7 linked regions of the Homo sapiens genome follow. The protein of the gene in region 1 interacts with the protein of each later gene in a biochemical or structural test. Each region holds a gene or a part of one and is shown in the gene's direction. Other genes may lie near its edges. The genes, in order: USP15, MDC1, STAM, USP21, USP28, TRIM63 and GSPT1.

Region 1 (4,136 bases):
GTGGAAGATACAATGATAATAAAACAGTCAATTTTGCTATCTTAGTCTTGAATTTATCTTATGATGTGAGTTTAGAGTGATTCTTCTTTTTTTCACTGAAAATCACTTCATTAATAAGTCATGATTATTGACAAAAGTAAATTGAAACCATTGGGCATATTGGTAGGGAAATAAGGGGAAGATAGAGAACAACTGATAAAGGTTGATTATGTGCATTACGAGATTTGATCCTCAAAAGAAGGACCAAAATATATATATTTATATGACTTATAGATGAGGAATCTGAGAGAAATTAATTTGCTTGCTCATAGTTTACTACCAGCGGACATTTATTAAATGCTTAGTCTGTCGCAGCCACTATTTTAAATGCTTTACACTTACATAGCCTTTAAAGTACATGCTCTTATTACACTTCATTTTATCTTTGATGATTTCAGAGCTGGTTTAAATACCTGGTTTATAAAGATTTAAAGTACTAGATACTATCTAATACTAAGAATAGATCCTTAGTATTAAAAATGGTTTTATGCTGTCACTACTCGAATGTAATTCAAACAATATTTCATTAAACCATGGGAATTTCTCTTTTTTCTTAGTCCTTGTATAGAATTTTTCAACAATTACTAAATACTTTTTTTCTTCCCTGAGTAATGTCAGTCTAGCTTGTTTCTTTTAATTTCCTCACTTACCACTGTAATTCACATTCTGTGTCTCATATTCATTCCTCTGAAGCCACTTCGCCAGACTCGTTCTCCCATTTATCCTTTAAACAGGGGAATGTAGATCCTTTAGATTTTATCACCCAGTTTACACAAAAGTCACTATTCAAGAAATCTAGCATAAGCCTAGTAAGTAGCCTCAGTTTTGGATACAGATTAAAATTATTTGAGGGAAGGGTCAAAAATGGCTCCTTACAAAGAAGGAAATAAGTTCCAATTATAATATAAAACAGAAAACCCCTGTAGGATTAACCTGCATTTGATTATGTCTAGACTGCCTTTACTACTTCCATCACTAAGATTCTACATGGTTTCCTTATAGCTCTCCAAAAAGAAAAGAGTAATGATGCCTTTTTTTCCTCCAAGGAATGGAGAACTAAGAATGCTAACTGTCCCTTCCATTCTCCCTTTAGTTTTGAGAAGACCCAGATATTAGCGTGGTAATTCCCCACCATAAGAGAAAATCATTTAGCAGAAGTACCAGTAGCAAGGACTTCTTTGTGAAGGAAGTCAAAGATCTCACAAAGAAGTTCAAGGGTGGCTCTGAGGCCAGGGTATTCTAAGTTTAGAGCCAGTTAAATCAAGACCTGAGAACATTTAGAGACAAAGTTACTTAACTGAAAAGAGCATCAAGTTCCTTGTTCCAGGTAGAAAACACCTGGTAATCTGGATTGATTTCTGTTATTTACCCATATGTTTTTACAGCTTAACAAAGTTTAACAGGTTAGTCAAGAGATTTGCCTTTGATAAAAAGATGGGAAATTTATATTCATACATTTGAATGGATTTCAAGCTGAAGAACTTTTTAATTCTCAGGAGAGATGTAGCTAAGTATTTATATGTACCACATAGTTGTGGCTATGGTTTACAATAACTTATTACTCATTTACTATGTTAAGAGCATTTTAAAAGTTCTCTAGATACAGGTTCCATATATAATGTAATATATTTATTCCAAATATATTACATATATGAAATACATGGTAGTATTCTCATTTTACCAGTACAGAAACTGGGATAGTTAAATGTATATGGTCATAACACTTAGTCAGTGGTAGAGCAGGAGGTCTAACTTAAAGCTTGCATTTTAAATTCTAAGTGTACTGCCTGCCTATGTGTGATAGAGCCATACCCAGATTATGGAAGCAACTTTTTGAAAGACAAATACTTGAAAGTATTAAAATCAAGAAATGACAGCTTTGTAATACTTGTTAAACACATTTTCATTTGTTATTAATATCAAGAGCCTCTAGAATTTTGTGAGTCTTCTTGTTTTAGCCTTGTAGTCTCAGCAGTCTCATTTCTAATTAACATATCTCTGTTTTGATACAGATAGTGTCTCCCATTTCCTGCAAATTATTTGCTTTTTCCTGCTTTTGGGGCCTTTATGCCCCATTTCTGTTGTTTCAGATACTTCTTAAAAATTACTGACTTTCATTTCAAAACCTAGTTCAAAGTCAGTCTCTAAAACCACCTCTAATCTCATCCAAATTTGTGGCCCCTCCATTCTTTGCTTTTAAAATATATATGTATATATAAAACAGCTTTATTGTGATGCTATTCACATACCTTACAATTTGCCCACTTAAAGTGGACAGTTCACTGGGTTTTAGTATACTCGAAAGAGTTGTGCAGCCATGACCATAATCAATTTTGGAATCCAAAAAGGAACCTCATACCCATTAATAGTCACCTCCCATTTCTCTCCCAAACTCCTCTGTTCTAGGCAGCTACTAATCTATTTTCTGTCTTTATATATTTGCCTATTCTGGATATTTTATATAAATGGAATCGTATAGTATGTGCGATTTTTGCATCTTGCTTCTTTTACTTAGCATACATGTTTTCTAGGTTCATGCATGTTATAGCATATATCAATGTTTATTTTTACTGCTGAATGATACAGTCATGAGTCACTTAATGACAAGGATAACTTCTGAGAAATGTATGGTTAGGCAATTTTGTCGTTGTGTGAACATCTTAAGGGGGTACTTACACAAATCTAGATGGGATTGCCTACTACATACCTAGGATGTATTGCCTATTGCTCCTAGGCAAAAAAAACCTGTACAACATGTTACTGTAGTGCATACTGTAGTCAATTCTAATACAATGGTAAGTATATATATATGTGTGTGTGTATAAATATATATATGTGTGTGTGTGTATATATATATATCTAAACATAGAAAAGGTAGAGTAAAAATACAATATTATGATCTTTTTTGTTTTTAGAGACAGGGTCTGGCTCTGTCACCCAGACTGAAATGCAGTAGCCCAATATTGGCTCACATTGCCCTTGATCTCCTGGGCTCAAGCAATTCCACTGCCTCATCCTCCCAATTAGCTAGGACTACAGGCAAGCACCACTGTGTCTATTTTTTATTTTTATTTTTTTGTAGAAATGAGGATCTTGCTGTGTTGCCCAGGCTGGTCTTGAACTCCTGGCCTCAAGCACTCCTCCCACCTTAGTCTTCCAAAGTGTTGGGATTATAGGCATGAGCCACTGTGTCTAGCCAGACATAATGTGTCTGTTATTGACCTAAATGTTGTTATGTGGTATGTGACCATATTCCATTGTATAGATATAACACATTTGATATATCCATTTATCAATTGATAGACATTTGAATTTCCAATTTTTGCCTATTTTGAATAATCCTGCTATGAACATCCATTACAAGTTTTCATTTCTCGTGTATATACCTGTAAGTGGAATTGCTAGGTCCCTGTTTAACTTTTTAAGGAACTGCTAGACTGTTTTTCTAAGTGGCCGTAATTTTACATTGCCACCAGCAGTGTATGAGGGTTCCAGTTTTTTCACCTCGTCAGCACTTATGTTCTTTTTTTTAATATATAGCCATCTTAGTGGATATGAAGTAGTATCTCATTGTAGTTTTGATTTGCATTTTCTTGATAGGTAATGATGTTGAGTATCTTTTCACCTGCTTATTGGCCATTTGTATGTCTTTTGGATGTCTGTCCAGATTCTTTGCCCATTTAAAAAATTTGGTTATTTTGTCTTTTTATTATTGCATTGTAAAAGTTCTCTAGATACAGGTTCCTTATTAAATAGTTAATTTACAAATTTTTCTCCCATTCTGTGGATTTTCTTTTTACTTTCTTGGTAGTGTCCACTGAAACATGGAAGTTTTTATTTTATTGAAATTCAATTTGCCTGTTTTTTCCTTTGTCACTTTTGCTTTTGGTATCATGTCTAAGAAGGCTTGGCTTAACTCAAGGTCATGAGGATTTACTCATATATTTTCTTTTCCAAGTTTTGTAGTTCTGGCTCTTACATTTAAGTCTGTAATTCAATCGAGTTAATTTTTTGTGTATATGGTCAGGGGAGGAGTTCAATTTCATTCTTTTGCATGTGGTTATCCAGTTGTCCCAAAACTATTTGTCAAAAAGATC
Region 2 (4,136 bases), on another chromosome or scaffold:
TGGGATTACAGCTGTCCATGACCATGCCTGGCTAATTTTTTGTATGTTTAGTAGAGACAGGGTTTCACCATGTTGGCCAGGCTGGTCACAAACTCCCGACCTCAAGTGATCCGCCTGCCTCGGCCTCCCAAAATGCTGGAATTGCAGGCGTAAGCCACTGCGCCCGGCCTGCGTTCTTTCTTGATTTGCCTTCCTACATGTTTCTTTCATACTCTGATTACAGTGAGCCCTCTGTGTATGCGAGTTTGCGTCCGTGAATTCAACCAGCTGCAGGTTGAAAATATTTAGGGACTGGCCTGGGCAACAGAGAGAGACCTGGTCTCCACAAAAATGAAAAAATTAGCCCAGCATAGTAGTGAGCACCTGTAGTCCCAGTTACATGGGAGGCCAGGATGGGAAGATCAGTTGAGCCCAGTCTGGGCAATAGCCCATCCCTCAACCCCCACCCCCAATGTCTCTTAAAAAAAACACACACACACTATTGCAGCACTGTTCACAATAGGCAGATATGAAATCAAACTAAATGTCCATCAACAGATGAATGGATAAAGAAAATGTAGGCCGGGGTCGGGCACAGTGGCTCACACCTCTAATCCCAACACTTTGGGAGGCCAAGGCAGGCAGATCACCTGAGATCGGGAGCTTGAGACCAGCCTGACCAACATGGAGAAACCCCGTCTCTACTAAAAATACAAAATTAGCCGGGTGTGGTGGTGCATGCCTGTAATCCCAGCTACTCAGGAGACTGAGTCAGGAGAATCCCTTGAACCCAGGAGGCAGAGGTTGCAGTGAGCTGAGATTGTGCCATCGCACTCTGGCCTGGGCAACAAGAGTGAAACTCTGTCTCAAAAAAACGAAAGAAAAGAAAATGTAGGCCGGGCACAGTGCCTCATGCCTGTAATCCCAGCACTTTGGGAAGCCGAAGTGGGTGGATCACATGAGGTCAGGAGTTTGAGACCAGCCTGGCCAACATGGTGAAACCCTGTCTCTACTAAAAATACAAAAATTAGCTGGGCATGGTGGCAGGTGCCTGTAGTCCCAGCTACTCGGGAGACTGAAGCAGGAGACTCATTTGAACCCCGGAGGCAGAGGTTGCAGTGAGCCAAGGTCACACCACTGCACTCCAACATGGGCAACAGAGTGAGACTTCATCTCTAATAATAAAAAAAAAGAAAATGTGTATATAGGCTGGGTGCAGTGGCTCAAAATACAAAATTTAGCTGGGCATGGTGGCATGCACCTGTAGTCTTAGCTACTCGGGAGGCTAAGATGGGAGGATTGCTGCCTAAGACGCAGAGGTTGCAGTGAGCTGAGGTCATGCCACTGCACTCCAAACTGGGTGACAGAGCAAGACTCAATCTAAAAAAAAAAGAAAATGTGTATATATACACAGTGGAACAGTATTCAGCAACAGAAGAGAATGAAATCCTGTCATCTGCAGCAACATGGATGAACCCTGAGGACATTATGTTAAGTGAAATAAGTCAGCACAGAAAGGCAAATATTGTATGCTCACTCATGTGGGAGCTAAAAACATGGATCTCATGGAAGTAGAGAGTAGAATGGTGGTTACCAAAGGCTAGGAAGGGTAGAGGGACAGAATGCATAAAGAGGTTGGTTAATGAATACAAAAATCCAGTCAGATTGAATGAATAAGTTCTAGTGTTCAGTTCCACAGTAGTGTTACTATAGTTAATAATTTATTGTGTATTTCAAAATAGCTAGAAGAGATTTGATATGTTTCCAAGACAAAGAAATGATAAATGTTTGAGATAGTGGATATCCCAATTATCTTGGTTTTATCATTGTACATTGTATGCATGAGTCAAAATAGCACAGGTACCCCATAAATATGTACAATTATTATGTGTCAATGAAGAAAAAAGAAAATGTGGTATATATACACAGTGGAATACTATTCAGCCTTTAAAAAGAAGGAAATTCCAGCCAAGCATGGTGGCTCACACCTGTAATCCCAGCACTTTGGGAGACCAATGTGGGTGGATCACTTGAGTCTAAGAGTTCAAGACCAAACCCCATCTCTACAACAAATACAAAAAATTAGCCGGGCACTTTGGCACATGCCGTAGTCCCAGCTACTTGGGAGGCTGAGGTGGGAGGATCTCCTGAGCCCAGCAGTTGGGAGTTGCAGTGAGCCAACATCATGCCACTGCACTCCAGCCTGGGTGACAGAGTGAAACTGTCTTGAGAGAGAGAGACTATTCAGGGAACTCTCTTATTAGGCTATGATGTTTTTCTTTCTTTCTTTCTTTCTTTCTTTTTTTGAGACAGGGTCTCTGTCACTCAGGCTGGAATGCAGTGGTATGATGAGAGACTATTCAGGGAACTCATATTAGGCTATGATGTTTTTCTTTTTCTCTTGGGTTTTTTTTTTTTTTTTTTTTTGAGACAGAGTCTCTGTCACTCAGGCTGAAGTGCAGTGGTATGATCACAGCTCACTACAGTCTTGACCTTTGGGGTTCAAGTAGTTCTCCTACCTCAGCCTCCCGGGTAGCTGAGACTACAGGACTACAGGTCCCCGTCCCCACACCTAATTTTTTTGTATTTTTTGTAGAGATGGGGTTTTGCCATGTTGTCCAGGCTAGTCTCAAACTCCTGGCCTCAAGCAATCCTCATGTCTTGGCCTCCCAAAGTCCTGGGATTACATGTCTGAGCCACCATGCCCGCCTAAGGCTATGACCTTTTTGAGACAAACGTTAAATGTTATAACTACCACCCTTATTCCCAGCTTACCTTTAATAACCTGTTCAGATTTATTATTCATGAGTTTATCTAAATCCTTTCTCATCATATTTATTATGTCAACCTGTACTTCCCTTTCCCTCTTCCTCTCCCTCTTTTCTCTCCCTCTCCCTCTCTCTCTCTTCCTTCCTCCCCTTCCAGGTACCCTAGATGAACCATGGGAGGTCCTGGCTACACAGCCATTCTGTCTGAGAGAGTCTGAGGACTCTGAGACCCAGCCTTTTGACACGCACCTTGAGGCCTATGGACCTTGCCTGTCTCCACCTAGGGCAATACCAGGAGACCAACATCCAGAGAGCCCAGTTCACACAGAGCCAATGGGGATTCAAGGCAGAGGGAGGCAGACTGTGGATAAAGTCATGGGTATACCAAAAGAAACAGCAGAGAGGGTGGGCCCTGAGAGAGGGCCATTGGAGAGAGAAACTGAGAAACTGCTACCAGAAAGACAGACAGATGTGACAGGAGAGGAAGAATTAACCAAGGGGAAACAGGACAGAGAACAAAAACAGTTGTTAGCTAGAGACACCCAGAGACAAGAATCTGACAAAAATGGGGAAAGTGCAAGTCCTGAAAGAGATAGGGAGAGTTTGAAGGTAGAAATTGAGACATCTGAGGAAATACAAGAGAAACAAGTACAGAAGCAGACCCTTCCAAGCAAAGCATTTGAGAGAGAAGTAGAGAGACCAGTAGCAAACAGAGAGTGCGATCCAGCCGAGTTAGAAGAGAAGGTGCCCAAAGTGATCCTGGAGAGAGATACACAGAGAGGGGAGCCAGAGGGAGGGAGCCAGGACCAGAAAGGGCAGGCCTCCAGCCCAACACCAGAGCCTGGGGTGGGGGCGGGGGACCTTCCGGGACCTACCTCAGCCCCCGTACCTTCTGGGAGCCAGTCAGGTGGAAGGGGATCCCCAGTGAGCCCCAGGAGGCATCAGAAAGGTAAGTGAAGGCAGAGGGGAACCCAAGGTGATACACAGGCCTCGTGATAATCAACCCCTGGGCAACCAGCTGCTTGGAACTCAGCCACCTTTGTGTTTACTTTCTGTCTAGGCCTCCTGAATTGCAAGATGCCACCTGCTGAGAAGGCTTCCAGGATCAGAGCTGCTGAGAAGGTTTCCAGGGTGAGAGCTACTTTTTCTACCTCCTATTCCACAAGTCATCTCTATATCTTCTCCAATGCTCTTTCACCTAGCCTCACTTTAATCTATTCCTTTCTCATTATTCAGTTTTCTTCCATTTTTGTCACGCCTTGATTGGCTTCTATTCCTTTATCCTCGGCACCCGTTGTTTTCCATATCTGTTTCCTAAGTTGTATCTCCTACCTGACTCAAAAGAAAGACCCTTCGTGTTTCTTCTTTCTTTGCCCCAGCCATCCTTTT
Region 3 (4,136 bases), on another chromosome or scaffold:
TTTTTTTTTAAGTTGAAATCTGGTGGAAATGAATACCCTTCTGGAAAATAAACAGCTGTTCTTAGAGTAGCATGTTGCTTTACAACTAGATACAAAGGGGCTAGAAGGTAGGAATTGTTGAGAAGACACTAGGGTTCCTGACTTAATAGGACCCTGCAGCTATTTTAGTATTAGCCGGAACTGCCACTTTTCCCCTGCTAGTCCTCTGTTTGACTATGTCACATGCTGCTCTACCTTCCTTGTTACTAGAGATTACTTGAGACTCATTCTTCAAGGTCGGGGCCTTGGGAAATTATCCTTGTGAATGAGATAACCTGTTGGTAGGTGCTTTAACAGTGAAGTTCTGTAGCGCTGTGGTACCCTGCTGCTGTTCTCTGTGTGTGACTCTGCTTCTGCATTCGGGATGTGAAATCCCTGGCATAGGCCCAACCCTACCCATAGAGTGTAGCTATTAATGTCACCTCTCAAGGAACACATGTTTATTTCAACAGGTGTCTTTTGAAGAACATTTTCTTGAAATATTTAGCCCTCTCGTCCTGGCTCATTCCTGCATATTCTTTAGTTGTTAGCTTAGCTGCATTTTTACTGGGACATCTTCCTTGCTTTTCCACCTCTCAGCACTGTTCCTCCTGTGTGCTGTCAGAGGACTGTGTGTGTACTTCCGTTTCCTGGCTGGTAGTTGCCTTTTTACTTGTTTGTATCCCCACTGAAGACAGTATCTTGAGAGCTGGCACTGTCTTTCACCTCTATAGCCATCCTATGTAGCACACAGTTTTACACTGGCTAGGAACTCAGTAAATATTTTATGAATACATGTTTTAGTGTTAATGACAATTTCAAGTGCTATATTAGACCAGTTAGGTGTATTTTTTAAAAATTCCTTGCAAAGGCTTCACAAAGGCTTAGAGGCCATTTAAATATCTATATATAAAGGTACAATATGTAATATCTGTTTATCAATATATAAAAACAGATGTGTGTTTGTGTGTTTCAACGGGGAAATGAGGAATTGCTGGTAGAGCAAATGTAGGATGAGGAAATTGGAAGGAGCGAGGGCCAGGGTTAGAAATTTCCTTACTAGAGGTGTCCTGCGTATTTGACTCGAGCTTTCTAGCGGCAAATCAAGGTCAGTGAGGATTGTTGTTGTTTTTGGTAGGCAGGTTTTTTAGCACTCCTCAGTTTATATATATCTGAGAGGCTATCTCTTGTTACATAAAATTTTGGTGTTAAAGCTCACTGTTTTTCAGACTTCTGTCATCCTAGGACAGTCTTATTGTTAGTTGGGGAAGGTGTCACTGATGACGGTTTTCTAAAGCTACCTGTAGCGATGGTAGTATTATAAGGTGATAATAAGTGACAATTACTGTTAGTATTTTGAGACCACTGAAGCTTATGTATTTATTTGTCTCTGATTTTAGTTTACTACAGTCAGCATGTGCCAGGCACTGTGTTAGACACCTGAGAGTCTTCTTTAGCTTCAAGGTGCTTACTGAGTAGTAGGGGCAAACACATAAAAAAATATAATTTTATACAACATGATTTATAAATAAAGAAGATATATGCCTTGTACCTTAGGAGCCTCAGGGTTTGAGGAAGTTTTCCAAGAGGGTTATTCTTAGCCAGTAGAAAAAAAGTGAGGAAGATGTTCTGTCACGTCAGAGATGTGGTAGCCTGGAATGGCATGGTACCCATGGAGTGAGCAAAGATGGGAGGTGTGAAAGGCGTGGTATGTATCGGCATTCCAGCAGCACACTTACCAAGGGTTGAAAGCGTGTAGGGGAGCAGCGAGAGACATACTTGAAGACACTGCCAAGGTCGAAGAATGCTTGTTCTAGATACCATCTTAGGGATAATGAAAAAGTTCAGAAAGGGCTTTAAATGGCAGTAGCGTAGATGGATTCATAGGGGCAAGATTAGAAGCTGGGAGACCATGGATATTAGGCAAGAAATTATGAGTATTTGTTGGCAAGATACAGTGCTATTAATTGGAAAGAGTTATTTAGGAGATTAGCAAATAATTACACATTGGGTGACATGGTTGGGAGACAGCTCAGTGCAGAGATAAGAGAAAGAAGTATTGGTGAATTGCATGGTTTTGCCCCAGGCAACTGGGTGGACGGTGGAACTGTAAATTGAGAATGATTACAATAATGCTAACATTTAAGGGGTATTTAGTATGTTCCAAGCACTGTGCTGTATGCTTTACACAAAGTAACTTATTCCTCATAATAACCTGTGAAGTCGGTAAACTATTACCCCCATTTTATAGATGGGGAAGCTGAGACCTGGAGACAAAACGGAAGTCCCACTTAGCTAAGATTCTAAACCAGACATTCTGACTCCAGAACCCAGCGCATAGACTCTATATTACGGCAATATTATAGCCCATACCATTGTCAATAATAGTATGAAATTTGACATCTCCTAATCAACTTTATATCTCACACATATGGAGTGATGACAAATAATGCCTTAGGTCACCACATTAGTTGGAGAAATGTAGCATTAAATTACCGTCTCTTATAATAAATTACCATCAAATAATGAATTTGTGCCAAGTACAAGAGCACTGAATTTCCCAACAATAGATTTATAAATAACAATTGGAGGAAAGTTTAGAAGTAGGCAGTATTTTGAAAATTTGGCAGTTGCTTTTTATATTGCTTGTTTTACATTTTTAATACAAATGTAGGGGGAATTCTCAGCATCTTAGTACTTCTCTTCACATAGCTAACCTAGTGTCTTACAGTGGAAACGCATGTATTCCGTTGGAAACAGGAAGACAGGAAGTAGAGGCAGTGGATAAAGACAACCCTTTGAAGAATTTTTTTCTTTCTTTTTTTAATGGGAGCAGTGCACAAGTGCAGGGACTTGAGATGGGAGTACTGGCAGCGGAGCGGTGGGAGCGGTAGGGAAGCTCAGTACGTGAGGGGTGCAGCTGCAGAGAGTTGATCAGTGTGGTGTTGGAGCGTGTGCTTCCGTATTTTCAAGGAAATAAAAGAAATGAGGTTATGAGGCCTTCCCTTCCACTAGTCCTTTGGGACCGTTCTTGTCAAGAACCCTGGTGATGCCCATACTGCTAGACTCCCGGTCAGTTCACCATTCTCCTCCTCCTCCATTTGACAGTTCGTGATTCCCTCCTCTTTTCTGAAATGCTTTCTTCACTTGCTGGTGACCATTCTCTTTTCCCTTCTGCCTCACCGCCACTTCTTCTCAGCCTCATTTGCCTCTTGCCTCTTTATCTTCTGGACTTCAAGGTCCAGTGCACAGTAGATGGACTGCCTTTTTCTCTGTTTGCAGCCGCTCCCCAGGGGACCTCATGAAGCCCGGTGATTCTGAATGCCGTGGATCTGCCGAGGATTCCCAGATGCGTATTTCTCCTCCGTACTTCCCCACAGGACAGCAGGCTTGAATAGCTGATTGCCTATGCAGGACAACAGGCTTGAATAGCTGACTGCCTATGCATTCTCTTTGCTTGCCAGTTTTTTGGACATCAAACTTGACAGATCCAAGATTATTACTTTGATCTTCCCCACACCCCTCCCACCCCCGAGTCTACTATGGTCCCATCATAGTATTCTGAAAATCAGTGAATGGCCACTCTACCAGTTATTTCTACCAGTTTTTAGGTTCTAAACCTCAGGCATTCTGGACTCTTCTGTTCATTATCATATTTTGAAGGCATTATCTTCAAAATCTATCTAGACTCTGACCCTTTCTCCCATCTCCACCATTACTGCCGTGGCTCTTCTGCTGGTCGGCTCTCTCCTGGTGGATCGTAATAACCTGCAGTCAGCTATCCTGGTCCAGAGGGAGCCCGTTAAACCCTGTGGAATCTTATCACGCTTCTGCTCAGAACGAGCCAGTGTCTTTCTGTCTCACTCAGAGTGTAAGCTACAGTCCTTATTGTGGCCATCAGGTGCTGTGTGTTCTCCAGCCCCCTCCCCACCACCGCAGTCCTGCCGGTGATCTTAGCTGCTCTCCCCTCGGCACCCCCTGCGGCCCCCTCTGCCGCAGCACTCGTGGCCTGCTGTTCCTTGAACATGCTTGGTGTTTTCTCTCCTCAAAGGCTTCTTTCTGTTTACCTGAAATGTACTTTCCTAGGGAATCTATCTGGCTCACTCGCTTACTTTTTC
Region 4 (4,673 bases), on another chromosome or scaffold:
GCAGTACAAGAAAAGCAGCTAAGAATAAAAGGAATAACAGTGATGTCCCTTAAGCATGTTCCCCCAGAATCTGTCTCCAGGAAGGAGCTTCTAATGGAACAAGAAGCATTGACTGGTAGTAATCTCACAGGATTTTCCTTGTATTGCAGCTGGGTCCATGGCTGGCAGTGGAAATCCCTGATCTGATTCAGAAGGGCGTCATCCAACACAAAGAGAAATGCAACCAATGAAGAATCAAGCCACTGAGGCAGGGCAGAGGGACCTTTGATAGGCTACGATACTATTTTCCTGTGCATCACACTTAACTCATCTAACTGCTTCCCCGGACACCCTCCACCTCTAGTTGTTACTAAGTAGCTGCAGTAGGCATTGCTGGGGAAGAAACAAACACACACCAAACAGTACTGCTACTTAGTTTCTAAGGCTGCACAGGGAAGGGAAAGACTGGGCTTTGGACAATCTAGAGGTAATTTATATCCGCCCCCAGGTGGAGCAACATGCGATTCTGGAGGCACGGGGGTAACTGAAAGTGAGTACATATAGTCTTTCTGGTTTCTGGAGATAACCCATCAATAAAAGCTGCTTCCTCTGGTAGCCTGTGGTTCTCATTGGGAGCTGTTAACAGAGGGCAAGTGGGCTGAAACCTGAGGCACATGAACAGCTACGCCGGGTTGGGTTGGGAAAGAGTCGGAAATAGGGGATGCTCTGGTCAGGAGTGGGAATGAAATGTTGACTGTTCCCCCTGCTGCTCAGATCTACCTTTGTCCTTTAGTGGTGAGCCATGCTTTGCCCTACCGTGTTAGCCTGCAAGAAGTGGTTTTGCCGGACCAGCACTTCCCGCCCTCCAGGGATCTTCCCAGCCCTCTGTGAAGTGCTAGATGCTTCTCCACTGGTCTGCGGGCTGGACCCAGGCCTGCAGTTTGCCATACTTGCGCCCCTGCTGTTTGGGAAGGATCTGTGCTGTAAGCCTCGCGGCCATACTACGACTGTCAGATCTCCATCCCTATGGGCTATAGGATGGGGCGACGGCACCCTATACCTCAGGGACTTGCTTTGGAGTCATGGATTAAAGACCTCTCTGGGCAGCGTTGAGAACCAGCGACCCTAAACTTGGCTGCGTTTCCATGGTGTCGATCGCGGAGCCGTGGGGGCGGGCTCACGCAAGCGCCAAGGGACCGGTGGGAGGAGTTCGGGTGTGGATGCGCAGGCGCTTTGAGAGACGGTGAAGCCGGTGGCCGGTGGCCGGGCGGGACCAACAAAGATGGCGGCGGCCCCTGCGGCGGGAGCGATCTGGGCAACGGCTGCGGCTAAAGCTGCAGCCGGGCCCACGGGGGGGCTGCACGGGGGTAGTAGGGGGTGGCCCTGAACTGGGGCCTGGCCCTGGCTGGCCTCTCCCGCCGCCTCACTGGGGGACAGGTACGGGCCGGGGCGTTATGGCATGGCGGGGTGTGGGGGGGCGCAGAGGGAAGACTGCTCCAGACCCGAGAGGACACTCTCCACAAAGGCGCGTGGGGCCCGGCGGGGCCTGGGAGAACTGGGCTGGAGGGACAGCATCCCTGGACCGCGGGGAATACGCCGCCGGATTCCGTAGCCAATCAGCGGTCTCGGCCTTTCTGCCCTCGAGGGGGGCGGACCCGGCTAAAGCCCTGCTGTGGTGGGAGAAGTGCAGAGATTAAGGGTCAAGGAGTTGTTCGTCCTCCATCCCCGACTACTGCTTTCTGAACCTCGACACCATGTCGGAGGTCGGAGGTGGGGGAGGGAATGGATCGTAAGTCACCCATATAGTCTGCTTCATTTGCAGCCCAGAGAGGCAGGGATTCGAGGATGGAGGGCTGTCTTTTGGGCTGTTATTCTTGCATCTACACTACCATTTGGCTAGGGTCTTAAGTGACCCGAGGCACATCCTACTTTACTAGCCGGGTATGGGGTCCCATGTTACGTTAGAGCCGAGATAGGAGTTATCACTGGCTTTTCAGTAAAGATGTGTTCTGCAGGGAGGGGTCGGGAGTATAGAAAGGGTCAAAGCCATGGGCTGCTTATCTTTCATTCATTTGTTTACCCAATAGATACTAAGTATTTACTTTGTACCAAACACGATGCCAGGTACTGGGGATACGATGGCTGATTCGATAGATCTGGTTCCTGCCCTCAGTGCGTATACTGCTCCCCACTTTCGTTGATGTGGTAGTGGTGATGACTGAGCCAACCACCTAATGTGGAAATGAGAGGACAGCAAGATTGTGGGTATGGAATGGGGCAAAGCAATAAGGGAAAATTAGTGTGGCAGGGTTCAGTACAGCAGCCTGGGTTCCCATTTCCCCCCATATTCAAATGCTGACACTCTCTTCTCCTCCCAGGTCCAGCCTGTGGTGTCCACAATGCCCCAGGCCTCTGAGCACCGCCTGGGCCGTACCCGAGAGCCACCTGTTAATATCCAGCCCCGAGTGGGATCCAAGCTACCATTTGCCCCCAGGGCCCGCAGCAAGGAGCGCAGAAACCCAGCCTCTGGGCCAAACCCCATGTTACGACCTCTGCCTCCCCGGCCAGGTCTGCCTGATGAACGGCTCAAGAAACTGGAGCTGGGACGGGGACGGACCTCAGGCCCTCGTCCCAGAGGCCCCCTTCGAGCAGATCATGGGGTTCCCCTGCCTGGCTCACCACCCCCAACAGTGGCTTTGCCTCTCCCATCTCGGACCAACTTAGCCCGTTCCAAGTCTGTGAGCAGTGGGGACTTGCGTCCAATGGGGATTGCCTTGGGAGGGCACCGTGGCACCGGAGAGCTTGGGGCTGCACTGAGCCGCTTGGCCCTCCGGCCTGAGCCACCCACTTTGAGACGTAGCACTTCTCTCCGCCGCCTAGGGGGCTTTCCTGGACCCCCTACCCTGTTCAGCATACGGACAGAGCCCCCTGCTTCCCATGGCTCCTTCCACATGATATCCGCCCGGTCCTCTGAGCCTTTCTACTCTGATGACAAGATGGTGAGGACTTGCCACACACATGGCCTTCATGCCCATGTTCCTCTGTGCTTTCCTGCCATCCTCTGCCTTTTCTGTCCCCCATTTCCCTGAAGTTCCTTTCTCAGCCCTTCATTACAGCAGTTTGGACATGCCTCTCCCTTGCTTAAATACCCTTGAGCCTCCTAGACCCTTTTTTGGGTTGTTGGTGACTCTTCAGCATGGTGTGCCATTTCGGTCCCCAGGGGATTACCCCAACTATTTAGAATTCTTCTTTGGGTCCCCAGGCCCTTCCTTTCCCTTGCTTGCACCTTCTCTACTGGGACTCTGCCTAGGCCTAATTAATCTCTGGAGCTAAAGAGAGGCAGGCACAGAACATCTTAGCAAACGTGGTTGCACATTTTCTGAGCTAAGTAAGCTAGGCTGATTGCAATTGGAGCCAGCAGGAGAAGGGCAAGAAGGGGCCACGGGGGCAGGAGGGGGTTTTGGGGGCAGAAAGGTGGGAGTGGTGAGCAGCTGGGCAACCATGCCGGTGCTGGGGGAGTTGCCCCAGGAGCTGCAACGTCAGCTAGCTGAGCAGAGGAGTAAGTGGGCAACAGGTGGGACAGCCATGGCTGAGTCCGTGGTACATTCAGCTGTGATGGGCTTACTGCTCATGACCAGTGAGGTAGGGAGACTAGAATACCTAGTGAGGGGAATAGGGTAGAGTTTGGGGATGAAACATGCATGGGATGGGGGAGGCAGTGGGCAGCATGCTGTTGAAAGGTTAAAGTGCCAGGTAGGATATATAGGAACTTGCCGATTGTACTCTGACCTTCCAGGCTCATCACACACTCCTTCTGGGCTCTGGTCATGTTGGCCTTCGAAACCTGGGAAACACGGTGAGAGCTATTCTCCTATCTTTCCTCTCTAAAAGGAATGTGAAATGGTGCTGGGGGTGGGGAAAACCCACGAGCTTGGGGAAGGCATGTGGAAGGAGAGCTCTGAAGCTCTTCTAAGGCTTCCTGGGCAGTGGTCTGGAGAGATAACAGCAGTGTCCCTACTGCTCCCCAGTGCTTCCTGAATGCTGTGCTGCAGTGTCTGAGCAGCACTCGACCTCTTCGGGACTTCTGTCTGAGAAGGGACTTCCGGCAAGAGGTGCCTGGAGGAGGCCGAGCCCAAGAGCTCACTGAAGGTGGGGCAACAACTCCTGCTCCCTCTGTTCAAGTCCCTTTTTCCCCAACCACTTGCAGGTCCATCTGCCACTGGTGGTGGCCCCCAACCCTTAAATCTGGCAGTTGTATCTACTTTTCCCAGTGCCTACTTTCCTAAAGGTTATTTTCTACCCTCTGAGCCACCTTTTGCTTGCCTCTTCCAGACATTAACCTTTGTTTGCCTTCCCCACTCCCATCCCAACAGCCTTTGCAGATGTGATTGGTGCCCTCTGGCACCCTGACTCCTGCGAAGCTGTGAATCCTACTCGATTCCGAGCTGTCTTCCAGAAATATGTTCCCTCCTTCTCTGGATACAGGTGGGAGAGCTGGAGGCTATGGGATTTCTCTCTGGCCATGTCTGGGGGTAGGGCCAAGCAAGGGCCCTGGCAGCATTGTTCTGAGCCTTGAGATGTTCTTCATCCAGGAAGTGGGGACCAATATCTGGGCAGGGAATAGTGTCTGTGGACTAGGAGAGGAGTCAGTTGCCCATACTCTTTGTCTGGCTGTAGCCAGCAGGATGCCCAAG
Region 5 (4,136 bases), on another chromosome or scaffold:
ACATGAGTCTGGGGATAGGAGTGGGGCTGCTCTTTCACTTTTTATATTCTACTTAAATTTTTTAATTTTTGTAAAAATAGAATCTTTTTATGTATATTATGAAATGTAAAGTTTTAATTTTTAAAAAGTGGTTCGGCAGGCTATTTAATCAAATAAAATAATAGTGCTTGGTATTAGATTTAAAAATTACAGGGAGGTGTATGTGTGTAATCTCCTCTGAAATTGAGATATCTGTTCCCTTGTTGGGCTTATTTTTCCATAAGTATGGACCTTAGGGAAAAGAGATTTCCTCCATTATTTTGTGCATGTGAGAGAGTGAGGAGGAGGGAGTGAGGTTTTTTTGTTTGTTTGTTTGTTTGTTTTTTTGAGATGGAGTCTCACTCTGTCGCCAGGCTGGAGTACAGTGGCATGATCTCAGCTCACTGCAACCTCCGCCTTCTGGGTTCAAGCGATTCTCCTGCCTCAGCCTCCCAAGTAGCTGGGACTACAGGCGTGCCACCATGCCCAGCTGAGTTTTGTATTTTTAGTAGAGATGGGGTTTCACCATGTTGGCCAGGGTGGTCTCGATCTCTTGACCTGGTAATTTGCCCTCCTTAGCCTCCCAAAGTGCTGGGATTACAGGCGTGAGCCACCGTACCCGGCAGGAGTGAGAGTTTTTTTTTAAGTCAAAGTAAAGGAAGTTTATATTCTTCAGCTTTGGTGTAAAAGAGAAACCTAACTACAATTAGAAGCTTATTTTATATTCCTGCTGGTTTGTTGACCTGCAGTTTTACTCTGACAATAGAGAAATTAACATTTACTTGATATGCTTTATTCTCTGTTAGTTTACAGAAAAGACGTAAAGAACTTAAGATTTATATTTTGTAGATGAGATATTAATACTTTTTTCCTTGGGTATTTAGCTAAAGTAGTAGAGCTAGGATTGTTTGACTTGAAGCCCTTCTCTCAGAACTCTCCAAGGTGTCACCTAGTGTGTATTCCTGTGAGTTGTATGTTCAGCTGATGCTTCCTTTTTCTTCCTTCTGTGTATTTTGTTCCAGGAAGGATAGTGTCACTTTAGTTGGCTTCATCTTGTAAACTCTGTAGTTGATTCCTTGATTCTTCCAGGCCTAGTCTTCTCTTTTCCATTTTCCTTCTCTTCCCATCCTCATGGGAAGGAATAATCAGTGATCAGAGAACATGAGCTAAAGACTGGCCGATCTGGCTTTGGATTCATTTTCATTACCTTCCAGCTTGGTGAACTTGGGCATGTTGCTTAATTTATTTAAACCTTAGGCTCACAGTTGGTAAAATAGGGATAGAAAAGTATCTACCTCACAGGCCAGTTGTGGTACGTGAGATGATAGAGAAAAAGGTTGGCTCTGTACCTTTATAGAGTTAATGCTCACTGAATACCTGTACTTTTTCATATAGCATCTTGCTTTCCAAAGTACATAATTTAGGCCAAGGTATCTTTTGGAAATTATCATATGAGCATGATTTTTGTCTTCCTCAGTACAAGTACAGAAAGCTCTTCTCAGGATGTTGAAAGTACCTTTTCTTCTCCTGAAGATTCTTTACCCAAGTCTAAACCACTGACATCTTCTCGGTCTTCCATGGAAATGCCTTCACAGCCAGCTCCACGAACAGTCACAGATGAGGAGATAAATTTTGTTAAGACCTGTCTTCAGAGATGGAGGAGTGAGATTGAACAAGATATACAAGGTTGGCTCTTTTAAAATTTGTCAGTTACTCTTTGCTTTTTCTGTTTTTTGACTATTTGGAGGTTAAGCACCTCGGTACACTTCCTGACATTACTGTACATGCTACAGAATTTCCCCCCCGCCGAGATGGAGTCTCACTCTATCACCCAGGCTGGAGTGCAGTGGTGCAATCTCAGCTCACTGAAACCTCCGCCTTCCGGGTTCAGGCGATTTTCATGGCTCAGCCTCCCAAGTAGCTGGGATTATAGGCATGTACCACCACACCTGGCTGATTTTTTTTTTTTTTTTAGTAGAGATGGGGTTTCACCATGTTGGTCAGGCTGGTCTTAAACTCCTGACCAAAACTGATCTGCCTGCCTTGGCCTCCCAAAGTGCTGGGATTATAGGTGTGAGCCACTACGTCTGGCCCATGCTTTTGAATTTTGACATGGTAATTGTGACTTCTTTTGCACTTTTAGTGCCCTGTAAACTTGGCTCACACACCCCCATTATACAGATATGGAAAGATCTCCCCCTCAAAATTTCTGGGAAATGATCACCTTTGCTGAGATTTTTCTGCATCAACTGATTTCTGTTTCTGTGGTAGATTATCTGAACTCCAGCTTAAGTTGACCCAGATTTAGCATTTAGCTTTTCTGGACTTCTACTCTTCAGTCTTTTCTATAGGAAGCATGCTTTACTGAAGGTTAATGAGGTATTTGAGCAGTATGCACAATGTAAAATTGGATTATTCAGCATTGTATTCTTAAAAAGCCCTTTGACCTCATTGCCCATATTGCTCAGACTAACCTTACCCCCCTTCCTGTCTCCTTTTGTCTAGGGAACAAAAAGATGATGGAAAATACAGATTCTTCCCAGATTCCTATTCAGAGAAATTTAGCCTTACCCTTTGTTCTGCTTTCTCATTTCAGATCCTGTCTGAGGCATACATTTTACAGCCAAGTGACCCATTAAGATCTTTTCCTAAACAGCTTACTCTTTAAGAAATTTTGGCAATTATAAAAAATAATGTTTTAAAACCTTAATGTAATTATATTGAACTAAAAGCTTTCATAACCTAAAGTACTAGCTGCTTTAAAACTGTATATTGCTTCGTGGTTCATAGAGGGAAGCTGAAATCATTAGGACCCTAGCAATATTCTTTGCTTAGTTAAAGTAGCCTGTGTGACATAGAATGAGATCATTTTAGTGAAGCTTTTGTTTTTCTTTTTCCAAACAGATTTAAAGACTTGTATTGCAAGTACTACTCAGACTATTGAACAGATGTACTGCGATCCTCTCCTTCGTCAGGTAGAATGAAAATTGATGGGAAAGTAGTCAAGGCATGTGCTAATGGTAGATACAAAAATCAAATTTGATAGTTTTCTTTTAAACCCAATGGGAATCCCCCTAAGATAAAAGAATAAACTTAAGATATAAATTGATGTTGTTCTGTTTCTTTATTTTAGGCTAAAGAAAGCAATATACCTTTTACCAAAAACAGGACCTAACACATACTTGTTTGAATTCTGCCACATGGAATTTTTTCATATTGTAGAAAGGTTTGCTGTCAGATACTAATAAAAATTACTTACAAAATGGTACTTTAAGTAGTGCAGTGGGAAAAACTGAACTAGAGAACAGTTATCCTTTCTTTCCCAAAGTTCCATGATTCTTCAAGATCTTTAATTTAACAACATGCGTTCAAGCTTTATTTCTGTAATAATAAATTCCAAAAGAGAGTTAGGACAGAAATTCTTAACTATCCACAGAAGTGTTTGTTAGAATAAATTCTGGGAATGGAGGGGTAAAGAGCCTCCAGGAGTGTCTCTGAACCTATTCTGGTTAGGGGCATGGACTTTCAGTGGCTTCTGTATGAATGACTGGAATGGGCAGAATGGCTTGGAGGAGGGGAGCCCTGTTTCTAGAATGGCATTGAGGCACAGTCCCATTGCTTAACAGGAATGCACCATGTAAAACGCAGGCTTCCCCATTTTTTCTTTTGTGTTAATTCAAAAATCTTCACCAGTAATTAAAATAGGTCAAAGTAAGTGTAAATTTAATTTGATTCTGTGACTGACTTTCATCTCTTTTACTAGTATTTAGTTAGCATTTAAGCATTGCTCTATTTTCTCTATATTGAAAATACACAAATGTGCTTTTCAAATGTTGTAACAAACAAGTATGTCATTAAAAGGGTCTTCACTCCAGATAGATAAGTGGTCACTTAACTCTAAGAAGCATGTGGCTGAATTAAATATGTTAACTTAAATTTTGTTGCCAAATAAAATAGGCATGGAACAAAATAGCTGCTAACCTTTGTAGGTCCCAAATATGCTAAGCATTTTCAGCATGAGTGGTCAAGGTGATTCTATTTTTAGATAAACAGAGTTTTGAATTAGAAGGATGCATATGTTTAGGTTATGTTTGGTTTTAGATCTGAGGAGTTTAGAG
Region 6 (4,051 bases), on another chromosome or scaffold:
AGGTGGAAGACAAGGAGATAAACCAGACACAGCCCTGCCCTCAAAGAGCTTGTTGGGGAGGACAGAAAAGGCTCAGTTATAAGACTTCATAGTTCAGTTCAATAAAAATGTTCTAGGCTTCTACTGTGGGCCAGGCTTTTTGCTAGACATTAGGTATGAAAAGGTGGTTAGGATTGGGGAGTTCAGGGTTTAGGAGTTTTGGGATTGATACCCCTAGAATCCAAGCTTCCTGTCAAGACAGTGGGTCCTAGGGTGATGACCAAGACCTGTACAGACCACAGACAGAGGGAAAAGTTCCAGATTCTGCTCAGTTTGGGGTGGGGAGCAGGTCACAACTGGGCTAGGGAATGGCACCAAATATCTACCTACAACACCTAGTTCACTAGTTTTGCTGATTTCCTGCGGTTACCTCTTCTGCGGTCCTAATCCTTTGTTCTCTCTCCCCCTGCAGACTGCCAAGCAACTCATCAAAAGGTCAGTGTCTTCCTAGAGGCTATGATCCAAGCACCTAGTTCCCACCAGGACCTCTGTCCAGGAAGCCTCATCCTGGGCATTAGGCCTGCTGGGAGGGTCTCACTCTAGGCTGGCTTCCCTGACCCTTTGCATCCCTGACTTTTTGGACCACTCCTTGTGCTTGAGGTTGGAGAGGAAATACTCCATCCCTCCAGGGGAGCCTCTGGGTAGAAGGCCTGGGCGTGGCAAAGCATGTGCCCTCTCTTCCCTGCACTGAGCCCCAGAGACCTCATCCTGCCTCTCTTTCTGTCTCCCCTGCAGCATTGTGGAAGCTTCCAAGGGCTGCCAGCTGGGGAAGACAGAGCAGGGCTTTGAGAACATGGACTTCTTTACTTTGGATTTAGAGCACATAGCAGACGCCCTGAGAGCCATTGACTTTGGGACAGGTAAAGGAGGTGGTGATGCCACTTGTCTATTTGCCTGCCTGACCCCTGGAAACCAGCATCCCTCCAACTGAGCCCGATGGGGAGGCAGATACACTAATAAAGATCCCCAAATATCAATCAAACTCATATAGCCAACTTCTGGCCGGCTGTGGTGGCTCATGCCTGTAATCCCAGCACTTTGGGAGGCCAAGGTGGGCGGATCACTTGAGGTCAGGAGTTTGAGACCAGCCTGACCAACGTGGTGAAACCTCATCTCTACTAAAAATACAAAAATTAGCCAGGCGTGATGGCATGTGCCTGTAATTCCAGCTACTTGGGAAGCTGAGGCAGGAGAATCACTTGAATCCAGGAGGTAGAGGTTGCAGTGAGCCGAGATTGTGCCACTGCACTCCAGCCTGGGCAAAAGAGCCAGCCAAACTCCATCTCAAAAAAAAAAAAAAAAAAATTCATATAGTCGATTTCTAGATGAGCCCAGAGCCTAGCACAGTGCCTGGTGCAGAATTCCTGCTTCATAAATTACATATGGATCCATGGCAGGGAGGCCTCTTGGGGCAGTAGAAATAATATGCCCTCTGGAATCAGACAGTCCTGAGTTTAAATCCTGGTTCTGTCATTTGTTTATCTGTGTGACCTTTGGCAAGCCCCCTTCTGCCTGAGTTTTATTTTCTAATTTAAAAAGTCAGGTTAGAAGTGAGCCCTCTAATAATGACCAACTCATGGTGCTGTTGCAAAAAATCAGATATCAATGCAGAAAGGTCCTGTAGAGCCCTAAAGATGTACTAGTTATTGCCTAAAGGTAGTCTTAGCTTCAGTTTCTTAATGCTATCACCTATGATACCCAGGCACCTTAATTGATCAACATCATGTCCTCATTTCTGTTTATAATTACTCTTCCATAGAGTGCCTATAATAATTGTAACAATGCAACCGTAACAATAATAAGGGTGAAAATAACAAAGGAAATGAAGAAACTGAATGGAAGCAAATATGTTAATTTGCTAAAGGTCACACAGCTAAAAGGGAAACACAGCTAAAAGGCAACAGAGAAAGAGAGGGCAGATCCCACATTGCTGACTGTTGCGTTGGTCTGAGAGGTGGTGCTCCAATGACCAGCTGAGGTTGGGGGACAAGGGGATGATGAAGGAACAAGGAAGAACTGTAAATGGCTGGCGTGAGAAAGAGAAGAGCTTCTTGGCACCTCCTGTGTCGCTCTCCTACAAACCTTCAGTAGCTGGTGCTAAGTCTGTTTTCAGAGCCCCAGATATACCCCATTCATAGGTAAGGACAAAATACATCCCAAAGCAGAGACACCAATGGCCTTGGGGACATCCACTGCTGTAGTGAGCTGCTCCACTGTCAGCTTCCCTAAGCTAAGATATTCAAGAGTGGGTCAGCCAGGCACAGTGACTCACGTCTGTAATCTCAGCACTTTGGGGGTCCAAGGCAGGTGGATCACCTGAGGTCAGGAGTTCCAGACCAGCCTGACCAACACGGAGAAACCCCGTCTCTACTAAAAATACAAAATTAGCTGGGCATGGTGGTGCATGCCTGTAATCCCAGCTAACTCGGGAGGCTGAAGCAGCAGAATTGCTTGAATCCGGGAGGAGGAGGTTGCAGTGAGCTGTGATCACGCCATTGCACTCCAGCCTGGGCAACAGGAGTGAAACTCCATCTCAAAAAAAAAAAAAAAAGAAAGAAATAGATATTCAAGAGTGGGTCATACGGTGTGAACATAACATTGTGAAGTCCTGCACTGGCCTTCCTAATCTCCCTGAGCCTCAGTTTCTCCACAAGTAAAATGAGGAGAGTACCAACAGTCACCAGTTACTGAATATTCTGTATGTCCTAGGCGCTAAGCCCTTAACATAAGTTTTATCATTTAACACAACTTCATGGGATAGGTTCTGTTACCATCTCTATTTTGTAGTTGAGGGAACTTAAAGCTCAGAGAGGGTAAGCCACTTGTTCAAGGCCACACAGCTGGCAAGTAGCCTGTGCAGATTCTACTGAGGGCCATTTGGCTTGCAAAACTCTTGTGAGGATTTTATAAGACGATGCAGATTCAACACTGAGCACACTACTTGGCACATAGTAAGTACTCAGCAACTGCTATTAAATGTAGTCATTGTGACAATGATTAAACAACAGAACTCCCTGGGTTATACTCTGATATCAGTTACTTGGCTGGAATTTTGGTTGTCATTTTGGAGATACTATTTTTTTTTTTTTTTTTTGAGACGGAGTTTTGCTCTTGTCGCCCAGGTTGGAGTGCAATGGTGTGATCTCAGCTCACTGCAACGTTTGCCTCCTGGGTTCAAGAGATTCTCCTGCCTCAGCCTCCCAAGTAGCTGGGATTACAGGTGCATGCCACCACACCCAGCTAATTTTTTGTATTTTTAGTAGAGACAGGGTTTTACCATGTTGGCCAGGCAGGTCTTGAACTCCTGACCTCAGGTGATCTGACCGCCTCAGCCTCCCAAAGTGCTGGGATTACAGGTGTGAGCGACCAAGCCTGGCCTGAAGATACTCTTGACAAATGTTCTGATTCTGTGGTGACCCCTTCAGGGCCCCAAAAGGTTAAGGAGGTAGCTTGGGAGAGGAGCGGGGAAGGGAGATGTTCCCTGTTAAAGCTTGACGGTGACATCTCAGGATAAAAAAGTGGGGACATGAGTTGCAGCTCAGTCACTGTCCCTCTGGTGCTCAGCTTCAGGGAGCAGAGGTGGCTCCAGAAGTGCTTCCCCATCATGTCCACCCCTCCCCTCCACAGGCTAAGGAATGAGGAAAATGGGACAGTGGCTGCTGAACAAGCAGATCTCATAGGCTAAGTAGCTTCCTTCAAGACAAGGACTCTGATCCCTGAGGATCGAGGAGGTTTTTCCTCCTCAGGCAATGTTTATCTGCCTACCCGAGAGATGTGCAGAAGCACAGAGTGCGCTTCCTCAGAGTCCCCTCTCTGGTCACAGGCGAGCAGGTGATAGAAGCTGCTGTTGCTGGAGCAAGGAAGTGACTTGAGCCCAGCTCCCTGGGACGGAGTGCGGGGGATTGCAGGAGCAGGGCCTCTGTGCAGCGTGGGTCTGGCAAGCCCATCCCCTCCCAGACCACTGCCGCCGCTGTGTGGCCGTTTGACCCGACTGGGCACAGGAAGGGGTTTA
Region 7 (4,136 bases), on another chromosome or scaffold:
TATGCAGCCATCATCACTATCTAATTCCAGACCATTTCATTACACCAAAAGGAAATGATGTATTCATTAAATAGTTGATAGACTTTTAAAGCTTAGTTCAATAATTTTTAAGTAGTGCATAATTCCGATATTTGGAGATTGATAGGTAATAGAAGACAGGTTTATTAAATCCTTCATAGAATTCCATAATAATAAAAATTATATCCATAAAACTGAAATCCAAATATTAAATTGTGTTTTCGATTTTGAAAAGGTAAAAAAAGGCAAATGCTAGTGTATACAGTGTTCTAGTTGGAAATGATTAGAATGTGATATTTAAAAGGTGACACGTTAATACTTTAATTGGCAGTTATACTTCTAGGATATGATTTTTGCTGATCATATCTAGGCTAAGATTTTATGTCATACAAACATAAGTGTTTACAGTCAAATCTTGCAACTCTTTATTGAGCAGACAGACATTCAGATCATTTTATGTTGCGTAATGCAGTGAATGTGTCAGAAAACCTCCAGTCTTGTTTTCTTTTAAAGCACAACGTGGAAGTTCTTGGAATACTTTCCGATGATGTAGAGACTGATACCGTAGCCCCAGGTGAAAACCTCAAAATCAGACTGAAAGGAATTGAAGAAGAGGAGATTCTTCCAGGGTTTATACTTTGTGATCCTAATAATCTTTGTCATTCTGGACGCACATTTGATGCCCAGGTAAACAAATTATTGTTGTTGTCATAGTGGGTTTTAATGTCTAAATGAAATTAGAATATCAGTGCCTTTTGTCCTGATTATTTGTGACATGCCAGTTAACCCATCTTAGTGTAGAGAAGGGGAATGGAAATATTATAAGCCACTTATATATCATAACCACAATAGGCACCTCATACAAGGTCTTCAAGCTGGTACAAGTGCTTACTGGATAAGGAGTATTCTTTGTAAGTTCCTTTTTATGTTTGATCTCCTGATGATACATTCTACAGTATCTAATATTCACTTTGACCAGAGCACAGTTACTGTGGAAGTCATGGTTTATGTGCTCATTGACAGCACATAGCTTTCCAGACAAGAAATCACACAGGTTTCCCTGTTATTAACAATCTAACCTCCCTGGGAGAATGACAGAGTAAGTGACTGGTGTGAATAACAGAATTTTTTAAAGTTCTTTTCTAAGGTATGACAACTAATCAAGTTAGATTTTGATGCCAGATGTAAGGTTGTTTACTTTACTGGACCTTGGATATTGAGAAATGGATAAAGCTGGATAAGTTTACATCTAGGTAGCTTCTGAGCGGTAAAAATTAGCTTAGTTCCTTGGGGAATATAAGGAAAGTCTTCCCAGATAAGAAAGTTGGCCTGCTGTCTTTTGTTTTGTTTGGAGATGGGGTCTTGCTCTGTCACCCAGGCTGGAGTGCAGTGGCGCGATCTTGGCTCACTGCAACCTCCACCTCCGGGATTCAAGCGATTGTCCTGCCTCAGCCTCCTGAGTAGCTGGGATTTAGGCGCCCACCACCACGCCTGGCTGATTGTTTTGTATTTTTAGTAGAGACAGGGTTTCACCATGTTGTCCAGGCTGGTCCTGAACTCCTGGCCTCAGGTGATCCCCCCGGCCCCCCTGCCGCCTCGGCCTCCCAAAGTGCTGAGATTACAGGCGTGAACCACTGCGCCCAGCCAGCCTGCCGTATTTTGAAAGTTGACCAGGGACTTGCCAAGAAGATAAATACAGGATAAGATACTGAAATTCATGCTTTGAGTTCAAGCAGCCTGACCCATCCTGTGAACAAAATTAGTAAGACAAACCTATCACCTCTAACACAAAAATCACTTAAGTTGATGTCCTAGTGAGATGGTAACACTAATTCTTGGGATTTATATGGCGCTTGAGAACATTGAATTCTTATTTACCCTAAGGCTAAAGATAAGAATGTGTGTGTTTGTTTGACAGATAGTGATTATAGAGCACAAATCCATCATCTGCCCAGGCTATAATGCGGTGCTGCATATTCATACCTGTATTGAGGAGGTGGAAATAACAGTGAGTTTAAGATAATTGGTTTATTTCTGTTTTAATACTGTTTTATCTTCATAATTTCTAATCAGCAACAGTGATGCACTTTTATTTCTACACCTGTTCTTAAAGATTATTTTATTTGGCATTATTCTGATTTTCTCATACTCTTTTCTTGGTTAGGCCTTAATCTGCTTGGTAGACAAAAAATCAGGAGAAAAAAGTAAGACCCGACCCCGTTTTGTCAAACAAGATCAAGTATGCATTGCTCGCTTAAGGACAGCAGGAACCATCTGCCTTGAGACCTTTAAAGACTTCCCTCAGATGGGTCGTTTCACCTTAAGAGATGAGGGTAAGAGCTTTTAAACTGACGTCTAGTAGTATATCCAGGATACCTAGCTTTGGTCATCTTCATCATCTCAGTACAGTACACATTGCAACAGGTTCACAGAAAACTTCGATTCACATTCTTATTCGTATGAGTGTTTTATGAGTTGAATGTATTGAACAGAATTGACCACGTGCTTTAGTAGTAATGCCAAATCTAGTAATGCTCTACGTGAAGAATCTTAATTTTGATGTTTTGTGAGTAGTGGATTTGGAGGGCTATTTTGTTTACTAAGATATTTCTATGATGTAATCCTTTGTAATATGTCTAGCGATTAAAAGGAACATAGAGATTGATTTTTTTTTTTACACCTAATTTTTCAGAGGTCTAATCTTTGTGACCTTTTGTGTGCATCCATTTCTGCCTACCTCTGGGTGACGCAGAACAACTAACATTCCCATCTTGGGGTCATGAAGTTCTTTGGCATAAAAACAAAATGATTGTTATGAAACGTTTCCTTATGAGCTTTTAATATTCCTGTCCTTTTCCTTTCCCTTTCCCTTTCCCTTTCCTCTTCCCTTTCCTTTCCTTTTTTTGAGATGGAGTCTCGATCTGTCACCCAGGCTGGAGTGCAGTGGCACCATCTTGGCTCACTGCAAGCTCCACCTCCCAGGTTCACGCCATTCTCCTGCCTCAGCCTCCCGAGTAGCTGGGACTATAGGTGCTGCCACCATGCCTGGCTAATTTTTTGTATTTTTGTAGAGACGGGGTTTCACCACGTTAGCCAGGATGGTCTTGATCTCCTGACCTCGTGATCCGCCCGCCTTGGCCTCCCAAAGTGCTGGGATTACAGGCGTGAGCCACCGTGCCCGGCCCAGCTGTTAATATTTCTAACTTAGATAACCATTTTAAGACTATAGAAGACTTTACATAAAACTTTATAGTTCCATTGAAATACAGAATAGTCATTTCACATGTTCATTCCAATTCCATTTAGCAAAAACTACTTTGTATCTACAAAGTGTCAGGAACTGTGCTAAGCCCTGGTGATGAATACAGTTCCTGAACTTTACATTGGATGAAATTGTATAAAGACAGTGTTTATTTTACTTTAAAGGCCCAGAACTCTTCTGGTTGATAGTAAAACTGGTTATTGGGTTTATCTTATTAATATAACAAAATGATAGTTTTAGTTTACCACTCAGAACCTGATAAAATCAGGAAGACAGAAGAAAAGCAATTAATGTAGCAGGAATTCTTAACCCTAGAATTATTTTTTCCTAAAAGCTAACTTGGCTTTAAAAAAAAAAAAAAAAAAAAAAAAAAAAAAGCTAACTTGGCTTTTAGGTTTTCCACAAGACCCAATGGGTTTTGTATCCTTTCAGTCCACAGGATTACTACCAGAAGGACGTGTTCACTGCACTGTAGTCAGTGGTGATTGCTGTGCCTTTTCACAGTTACTTAAGGATAGGTTTTGGGATTTTTTTTTTTAGCAGCTTTATTGAGATACAATTTCCATAATATGAAATTGACCTGTTTTAAGTATGTAATTCAATGAATTTTAGTATGTTTACAGAATTGTACAACCATCACCATATACTAATATTAGAACATTTAGAACACCTAAAAAGAAACCTTACACCTGTTCATAATCACCCCTTATTCCCACCTCCACCCCAGGCAACCATTTTTCAATTTGTCTTTTATAGACACTCCATAAATAGAATTATAAATTATGTGGTCCTTTGTCTAGTTTATTTTACTTAGTGTGATTTTGAGGTTCAACCATGTAACATGTTATTTATTCCT

What was found.
Region 2: the proteins of USP15 (region 1) and MDC1 form a complex in vitro, tested with the Homo sapiens proteins (one study listed by BioGRID).
Region 3: of the proteins of USP15 (region 1) and STAM, one has a biochemical effect on the other in vitro, tested with the Homo sapiens proteins (one large-scale study listed by BioGRID).
Region 4: of the proteins of USP15 (region 1) and USP21, one has a biochemical effect on the other in vitro, tested with the Homo sapiens proteins (one large-scale study listed by BioGRID).
Region 5: of the proteins of USP15 (region 1) and USP28, one has a biochemical effect on the other in vitro, tested with the Homo sapiens proteins (one large-scale study listed by BioGRID).
Region 6: of the proteins of USP15 (region 1) and TRIM63, one has a biochemical effect on the other in vitro, tested with the Homo sapiens proteins (one large-scale study listed by BioGRID).
Region 7: of the proteins of USP15 (region 1) and GSPT1, one has a biochemical effect on the other in vitro, tested with the Homo sapiens proteins (one study listed by BioGRID).

Annotation. Positions count from the first base shown.
Region 1 is NC_000012.12:62,266,484-62,270,619, forward strand, and holds part of USP15 (ubiquitin carboxyl-terminal hydrolase 15), read left to right. Parts: intron 1-4,136. UniProt on the Homo sapiens protein: Hydrolase that removes conjugated ubiquitin from target proteins and regulates various pathways such as the TGF-beta receptor signaling, NF-kappa-B and RNF41/NRDP1-PRKN pathways.
Region 2 is NC_000006.12:30,707,126-30,711,261, reverse strand, and holds part of MDC1 (mediator of DNA damage checkpoint protein 1), read left to right. Parts: intron 1-2,904; coding exon 2,905-3,696; intron 3,697-3,807; coding exon 3,808-3,878; intron 3,879-4,136. UniProt on the Homo sapiens protein: Histone reader protein required for checkpoint-mediated cell cycle arrest in response to DNA damage within both the S phase and G2/M phases of the cell cycle.
Region 3 is NC_000010.11:17,709,969-17,714,104, forward strand, and holds part of STAM (signal transducing adapter molecule 1), read left to right. Parts: intron 1-3,300; coding exon of another isoform or gene 3,301-3,412; exon of another isoform or gene 3,413-4,136. UniProt on the Homo sapiens protein: Involved in intracellular signal transduction mediated by cytokines and growth factors. Upon IL-2 and GM-CSL stimulation, it plays a role in signaling leading to DNA synthesis and MYC induction. May also play a role in T-cell development.
Region 4 is NC_000001.11:161,158,263-161,162,935, forward strand, and holds the start of USP21 (ubiquitin carboxyl-terminal hydrolase 21), read left to right. Parts: upstream 1-1,237; 5' UTR 1,238-1,416; exon of another isoform or gene 1,417-1,438; coding exon of another isoform or gene 1,439-1,504; exon of another isoform or gene 1,505-2,103; 5' UTR 2,104-2,244; exon of another isoform or gene 2,245-2,357; coding exon of another isoform or gene 2,358-2,378; coding exon 2,379-2,978; intron 2,979-3,775; coding exon 3,776-3,835; intron 3,836-4,007; coding exon 4,008-4,128; intron 4,129-4,352; coding exon 4,353-4,464; intron 4,465-4,656; coding exon 4,657-4,673. Other genes in the region: UFC1 (ubiquitin-fold modifier-conjugating enzyme 1), read left to right, coding at 150-230. UniProt on the Homo sapiens protein: Deubiquitinates histone H2A, a specific tag for epigenetic transcriptional repression, thereby acting as a coactivator.
Region 5 is NC_000011.10:113,812,742-113,816,877, reverse strand, and holds part of USP28 (ubiquitin carboxyl-terminal hydrolase 28), read left to right. Parts: intron 1-1,495; coding exon 1,496-1,704; intron 1,705-2,922; coding exon 2,923-2,993; coding exon of another isoform or gene 2,994-3,002; exon of another isoform or gene 3,003-3,123; intron 3,124-4,136. UniProt on the Homo sapiens protein: Deubiquitinase involved in DNA damage response checkpoint and MYC proto-oncogene stability. Involved in DNA damage induced apoptosis by specifically deubiquitinating proteins of the DNA damage pathway such as CLSPN.
Region 6 is NC_000001.11:26,054,051-26,058,101, reverse strand, and holds part of TRIM63 (E3 ubiquitin-protein ligase TRIM63), read left to right. Parts: intron 1-451; coding exon 452-474; intron 475-774; coding exon 775-899; intron 900-4,051. UniProt on the Homo sapiens protein: E3 ubiquitin ligase. Mediates the ubiquitination and subsequent proteasomal degradation of CKM, GMEB1 and HIBADH.
Region 7 is NC_000016.10:11,873,976-11,878,111, reverse strand, and holds part of GSPT1 (eukaryotic peptide chain release factor GTP-binding subunit ERF3A), read left to right. Parts: intron 1-531; coding exon 532-705; intron 706-1,936; coding exon 1,937-2,026; intron 2,027-2,182; coding exon 2,183-2,351; intron 2,352-4,136. UniProt on the Homo sapiens protein: GTPase component of the eRF1-eRF3-GTP ternary complex, a ternary complex that mediates translation termination in response to the termination codons UAA, UAG and UGA.